Linked DNA regions of Homo sapiens. The protein of the gene in region 1 purifies or fractionates together with the protein of each later gene. This does not show direct contact. Each region holds a gene or a part of one and is shown in the gene's direction. Other genes may lie near its edges.

Region 1 (3,646 bases):
GCCCACCTCCCTCAAGAGCGAAGACCTCTGGACACGTAATTGCATCATCTGGAGGGAGAAGGAAGCACATGTCTCTGAGCACCCAGCAGGACACCTCCAGCGGGGTGGGGACCTGGGGGGGTGTCACCTGAGCCCCTGGGATGGTTGCACTGAGCCCCACGGCACACCATGTGTGCTCATGGGCCTCAGCTCATCTGTGCACCACTCACATCCCCTTAGAGACAGGGAAATAGGGTCAGAGAAGGGAGGCGGCTTTCCCAGGGGCACAGCTGTAAGCAACAGGACCCAGCCACCTGCTGAGCCGTGCTCCCCTCCACTGAGCGGGATGCCAGCAGGACATTTAGACAAGCAGGGGGTGAGAGGAGGACGCCCAGGTGGGCAGGGCTTGAAGGCACTAGGGAGCCAGTGAAGGGTGTTGAGAAGTGGAGACATGGCTCAGGTTTGCCTTTTAGCAAGAGATTCCTAGTATCAAACTGGGGCGGGATGGGAGCTGGGAACCTACATGGGAGATGAGGGTAGCCCCACTGGCTGTGGCTCTGGTGTGGTCAGTGGGGGAGGCTCAGTAGGGGTGGCATGAGCCGGCCCCAGATGTCCAAGGTTCATAGGTATTCTTCTAGATCGTGCGGCATGCAGCTCACTGCCAGCACCTCCAAATGTCCTTCCTTCTGGGTGTGCCACCTGTATGCTCTGTGCCAAGTGATGGAGCCCTTCGGGGGGTCCCTGCTCGGCTCCTCCACAGGGGCAGATATGAGCCTCCCTTGGGGCCCTGAGACTACCCCCCCAATCCTGGCAGGAGGCCAAGCTTGCTGGGGATGCACACCCTGCCCAGAGGGAGGCCGCAGCTCCTAAAGCAGGAGAGAGGGAGAGGCTGGGCAGAGATGCCTCCGGGGGCAGCATGGGACTGTGCTGGGCCTGCAGCCATGTGGGCAGATCCCAGGTGGCCTCTGCAGGAAGGGGCACAGAGAAGCGGGACAGAGTGCACATGTGCCTGAGGGACAGTGGGCACAGGAAGCTGGTGTTGGCAGCCTGTGTAGGATGGGTTGCCGGGTCCTGAGCCTGAAGGGTGGGAGACAGAGCTCCAGAAACAGGCCGGGCTCGGTGGCTCACGCCTGTAATCCCAGCGCTTTGGGAGGCCAAGGCAGACCAATCACCTGAGGTCAGGAGTTCGAGACCAGCTGACCAACATGGAGAAACCCCGACTCTACTGAAAATACAAAAAAAATAGCCAGGCGTGGTGGCACATGCCTATAATCCCAGCTACTTGGGAGGCTGAGGCAGGAGAATCGCTTGAACCCAGGAGGCGGAGGTTTCGGTGAGCTGAGATTGTGCCATTGCAGTCCAGCCTGGGCAACAAGAGTGAAACTCCGTCTCAAAAAAAAAAAAAAAACACCAAAGTCCCCTTCCCATCTCCCTCACCCAGGCCCGAGGGCCAGCCTCGCCCACGACCCCATATGAGAAGGTGACTGGATATGACAAGGGCTTGACCCCGCCCCCCATGTGGGCCCTTCCTGCCTGTATCCCTGACCTGCCCTTGCCTCTTCTGGTCCTGGCAGCCGGCGGCGGCAGCAGCAAGACCTCATGCCACAGTGCCGTGACTGGAGGGCGGTGACCACGCAGGATGCCGTGAACCCCATCGAGAGCCTGGACACCTGGACCGAGTTTGTGGAGGGAAAGAATAAGGTACAGGCCAGCCGCGCTGCTGAGTGCCCAGGGAGAAGGAGAAGGGAGGAGAGAGAGGCCATTACTGCCATGTGGTTTCCACCTGGCTTCCAGAGTGCTGGGCAGAGCAGCCGAGAGCGGGTGACCTTCCTGCAGTCTGTAGGCCTCGGCCACCCTGCCTGCAGAAAGGTCAGAGGGCCAGTCTCCGGCTTTGTGATGGAGGGCGGACCTCTGGCGGCTTCCCAGACAAGGAAGCTGACATGCAAGGCCACCTGGCCAGGCCATGAGCCCCTGAGGCCCACAGGCCCCAGGACCAGGAGGGGACAGGGCTGGAGGCTGACCAGGTCTGCACAGAGGGCTGCTGAGCCGCTGGCGCAGCCTGGGGGCAACGCCGAGAAGGGGGTACTGAACAAAGGCACCTACTTCCTCCAGTCACTTCCTGTTTTCCTACACACCTCCAGAGCCTCTTCCTGTTCCAGTCCTGGACAGGAAGTGCCCAGCTGGGGGTGGGGTGGGGGTGGGGGTCTTTGGATGGTAGGCAGGGCCTGTGGCCCTCTCTCCTCCCCTGTGTCTCAGGCTTCCTACTCCCTGAGGCCTCAGTCCTTCTGGGAGCCATCCCCACCCCTCTCAATAACCCTGGGCCTCGGGATTGCTGCTGAGGACAGTTCTGGGCTGAGGAGGCCATCTCACGAGGATCTCAGCAAGCAGCGACTGGATTGGGCCTGACCCCATCCAGAAGTGACTGGCTTTTGCTGTGACCCAGGCTGAATTCTCACCCTGGCTTGCACTGACGCTGGTGCCCCCTCAACATAGCCACGGCCAGAGGTCTCTCTGGTCCTGCCAAAGGCTGCCCTCTGACGTCACTGCAGCCTAGGCCAGCAGTCCATACACTGTCCCTTGACTTTTCTGGGCAGCTACCTCTCTCTGCTGCCCAGGGGCCTTCTCTCCTCTGCCTCACTATCCCTGGTCCTGTGAGTTTTGGTCTTCTCCAGCCCAAAGCCTCAGTTTCCCCCATGATTGGGGGGGGTGGTGCACAGCGACCTCCTTGCAGAAAGACAGGGCCCAGGTTGGGAGAACTTGGGCAGGAAATGGATCCTTGTGCCTGTGCTCTCCCAGACTGTGAGCAAGCTGGTGATCCAGAATGCCAACGTGTCTGCCATGTACAAGTGTGTGGTCTCCAACAAGGTGGGCCAGGATGAGCGGCTCATCTACTTCTATGTGACCAGTGAGTGACCAGACCAGGGCGGGGAGGCCTGGGTACAGGGTCAGGAGGGGGCAGGTTTGGGCTCATTGAGTTTCTGGGGTCTTTGGGACACCCAGGAGAGAGATCCAAGGCCTACCGGTTGTAGACAGGAAAAATAGATTTAAGGGTCACCAGCATAGGGCCTGGGTGCTGGCGCACTGGGATGGAATGGCATCCTCTGTCCCCAACCCTGGGGCTCCTCCCTCAAGGATGCCCTTGGCTCACTGCAGCTCCTCCTAGCTATACCCACTCCCACCCTCCCCTTCCCAAGCCCTGAGACCTTGTGACTCGTGTGAATTTTGCTCTGGGGAGAAGCTCTGTGGTTTACTCAGATTTTCAAATGTGGTAGTGACCTCAGGAGAGCGGAGCCCAGGAGCAGACGTCACTGGGTCCCAGAATGTAGATCAGGGCACCAGCAGAGAGATGTAGATCAGGGCACCAGCAGAGAGATGGAGCCCAAAAGAACACCCGGGGGCTGGGGGGCCACAGGAGCCTGACCAGAAGTGACCAGAGAGACAAGAGGAAGTGGGCGCACGGCACTGGGAAAAGCCAGGGAACACGTTATTTCAGGCTGAGCATGGGGTGGGGCATGGCAAGCTTCAAGAGAGAATGAGGACTCAAGTCCCACTGAGGGTGACAAGGAACTCCTGATGACCTGGGCTTTTGGTGGGGCGGGGGGCAAGCAGTCCAGCTGGGGCCCCTCCAGGAGAGAGGGAGGGAGGGAGGCAGGAGGAGACCCCGGGG
Region 2 (3,646 bases), on another chromosome or scaffold:
TCACACCACTGCACTCCAGCCTGGGCAACAGAGTGAGACCCTGTCTCTTAAAAAACAATAAGAAAAGAAAGAAAGAAAAAGAGAGGAAATAAGACTGAACTGATAAGACATGGAAGTGGGTGAGGGAGAAGGACTTCTAGGTTTCTGACATGTATAGCCAGGGGATGGTGGTAACCATTCAGTGCGACAGTTGACATCAGAGAGTGGGGGAGGTGACAGCACCATTGGGGGCAGCTGCTGGAGCATCTAGGAAGAGGAAGGCATAAATCTGAATGGCACTCAGGGCTATCCTAATGGATAGAGAGCCTAGGGCACCATGTGGCTTGAAATCAGGCATGCAGTCGAAGTCCAGTGCATGCTGGTGAGTGAGCTGGTGATTCCTACCTCTGGGGATAAACCTGAACAATGTTGAGATCATTACTTGATTACTTGATATCTGATTTTAGGAAAGTATAGAAAACTCGAGGCAACTATTGTGCACAAATGAAGATGTTTCCAGCCCTGCCTCGGCGGACCAAAGGGTATGTTTCACGTGCTCAGGTCTGGCTGGTTGCCCTCAGATGGTTCTGCCTGCATGGTCTGAAGTCAGGTGGAATTTGGCCATTAATCTCTGTCTCCGTCTCTTTTCTTTCTTTTTTCCTTCCCTTGGGAGCCACTGTTCTATTGGCTATTAATGCTGTCATTGTTATATACTGCCCAGAGGACCAGCTTTGCAAAACTGGGTTAGTTTTTTAAATGTAGTTAGAATTCTGTCCCATAAACCAGACAGCAAGTTTCCTCCTACACAGTGGATATTTGTGGGGATTCCCTGCAGCTGATTCCTGGAGCCCAGTGGCAAACCCCAGAATTCAGACAGGGCTCTGACGTCAGAATTCATTCTCCACTGCAGGCAGCGTTCCTGCCGATAGGCTCAAACGGACTGTTCCTTATCTACCTTGCAGTATGTGGGGCTTTCTGGAGCTCACAAACACCAGCTCCTCAAGACAGCCTATGGAGAGCTCACATATTTAACTTTTTCTAAGAATGTGCTGGGGACCCTGGGCTGACAGCTTGGCTCTGTTGCAAGTAACTTGACTGATGGCATGGTGTGTCATCAGCACACAGCCTGCTCTGCTCTGAGCCAGAGGCAAGCCGGATTCGGGGACTCATCTGAGGGATAAGTTAGGTGTTGGTATTCTCCAAGGGTAGAGACAGGACTTTTTAATGTTCTGGTCCATTTCTCTGTGTGGCTCGTCTCTTTGCTTGTCATTAGTTCATTTGTTTATTCATATGATCCATTTATTTTGATTTGTTCTGTCAATGTGGTAAATAACAGCTCTGGCCTTCACTCTCTGAAAGGTAGAACAAATGTGGTCCCAGAAATGAGACAGGCAAAGAAATTCTTTGCTGTTGAGCCACCTTTAAAAGCTTTTTTTTTTTTTTTGTTTTTTTTTGTTGTTGTTGTTGTTTTTTTAAGGCTGGGTGTGATGGCTTAACCCTGTAATTCCAATGGTTTGGGAGGATGACTTGATGCCAAGACTGCAAGACCAGCCTGGGCCGTATAGCAAGACCCCATCTCTACTAAAAATTAAACAACTAGTTGGGAATGGTGGCGTGAGCCTGTAGTTTCAGCTATTCAGGAGGGTGAGGTGGGAGGATCGTTTGAACCCAGTAGTTCGAGGCTGTTCTGCAGTGAGTGATGATTGTGCCACTATACCCCAGCCCTGGGTGACAGAGCAAGACCTTGTCTCTTAAAAAAAATTTAAAATGAAACAAAGCTATTCTTTTTTCTCCTTTAAGATACAAGAAGCTTGGAAGCGGAGTCTTGTAAGTTTCAGCCCCTTCCTAATTTTTAGTGTCCTATAATAACAAAACCAGACATCCAGCTAACCTTGCATCTCTCCTTTTGAAGGCAACAGTGCATCCCGACAGCAGCAACCTGATCCCCAAGCTTTTTCGACCTGCAGGTGAGTTGGTTCTAATTTTCAGAAGTGGGTTGGGAAGATGTAGTTTCTAACACTTAGAAAACTCTGCCTGCCGGATCACCTGGGGTCAGGAGTTCGAGACCAGCCTGGCCAACATGGTGAAACCCCGTCTCTACTAAAAATGTAAAAAATTAGTTGGGCATTGTGGTGGCACGTGCCTGTAGTCCCAGTTACTCAGGAGGCTGAGGCAGGAGAATTGCTTGAACTTGAACCCGGGAGCCGGAGGTTGCAGTGAGCTGAGATCATGCCATTGCGCTCCAGCCTGGGCAACAAGAGTGAAACTCCGTGTCCAAAAAAAAAAAAAAAAAGAAAAGAAAACTCTGCCTGCCTTGCTTTAATTATTTCTCCCCCAGCAGGATTTCTTTCTTTTTTTTTTTTTTTGAAACAGTGTCTTGCTCTGTCACCTAGGCTGGAGTTCAGTGGCACAATCTCGGCTCACTACAACCTCCGCCTCCCAGGTTCAAGTGATTTCTCCTGCCTCAGCCTCCTGAGTAGCTGGGATTACAGGTGCCTGCCACCATGCCCAGCTAATTTTTTTCCTTTGTGTATTTTTAGTAGAGACAGGGTTTCACTATGTTGGCCAGGCTGGTCTCGAACTCCTGACCTTCTGATCCGCCCACTTGGCCTCCCAAAGTGCTGGAATTACAGGCGTGAGCCACTGTGCCTGGCCATGTTATAGTAATTTTATGTACATACTTTATTATTATTGTCATTTTTAGAGACAGGGTCTCGCTCTGTTACCCAGGCTGGAGTACAGTAGCACCATAATAGCTCAAAGCAGCCTCCAACTCCCAGGCTCAGCTGATCCTTCTACCTCAGCCTCCTGAGTAGCTGGGACTACAGGGTCATGCCGCCACACCTGGCTTTAAATTTTTTATGGAGGTGGGGGTCTCGCTACCTCTACAAAATAGAGGCTGGTCTCGAACTCCTGGCCTCAACCCATCCTCCAGCCTCAGCCTACCAAAGTGCTGAGACCTTGACCCCCCACTTTATTAGAAAAACAAAGAATGAGTGGAAAAAGTCCTTTGAGGTCTGTGCCTTCTGGAAGCTGGGGAAGAGGTGTTCAGGTGGGTAGTCCCCTTCTGGCCCCCTCTGCCTGGGCAACTGTGATCACTGACACCTCCTCTCTTCTCTTCCTGCCAGCGTTCCTGCCTTTCATGGCACCCACGGTGAGCAAGCAGACATTTGCCGTTAGGAGACTAGGGGCTTGGGAAGATGGCCACTCTCCTCCTAACCTCAGCTGTGTCCCTCCAGCTCCGGACCCCTGTCACATGACTGCCTGATAGATGGTTGTGGATCCCCACTGATAACCCATGGCTGCTGTTCATACGTCCTTGTCCCCACTCCCTCCCCCTCCCCACACCCTCCCAGTCAGGCATCCGGGCCTCTGGAAGGCCCACAGCTTGGCAAGGTCATCCCTTTTCTGAACACCAAGTATGCGCAGAGCACGGTAGAAGCGGCCAGTGAGTTAGGATGAGCTCCCTGCACAAACCCCTGGCCACCAAGTCCTCCTCTGACACAGCCCCTCACCTGGGACCTGGCATTGTCCCTGTGAGGCTTTTCTCACCTTGGCCCTTGGGAGGTGCTTTTTGGTTTTTTGGGTTTTTTTTGTTTTTCGAGACAGAGTCTGGCTCTGTTGCCCAGGCTGGAGTGCACTGGCGCAATCTCAGCTCGCTGCAACC

What was found. Proteins that work in one complex are often made in the same cells at the same time.
Region 2: the proteins of FLT4 (region 1) and SFXN4 purify together in Homo sapiens (affinity purification with mass spectrometry; one large-scale study listed by BioGRID and IntAct). This does not show direct contact.

The regions. Positions count from the first base shown.
Region 1 is NC_000005.10:180,621,969-180,625,614, reverse strand, and holds part of FLT4 (vascular endothelial growth factor receptor 3 isoform 1 precursor), read left to right. Parts: intron 1-1,553; coding exon 1,554-1,680; intron 1,681-2,775; coding exon 2,776-2,884; intron 2,885-3,646. UniProt on the Homo sapiens protein: Tyrosine-protein kinase that acts as a cell-surface receptor for VEGFC and VEGFD, and plays an essential role in adult lymphangiogenesis and in the development of the vascular network and the cardiovascular system during embryonic development.
Region 2 is NC_000010.11:119,159,215-119,162,860, reverse strand, and holds part of SFXN4 (sideroflexin-4), read left to right. Parts: intron 1-446; coding exon 447-521; intron 522-1,779; coding exon 1,780-1,806; exon of another isoform or gene 1,807-1,891; coding exon 1,892-1,946; intron 1,947-3,107; coding exon 3,108-3,133; intron 3,134-3,646. UniProt on the Homo sapiens protein: Mitochondrial amino-acid transporter. Does not act as a serine transporter: not able to mediate transport of serine into mitochondria.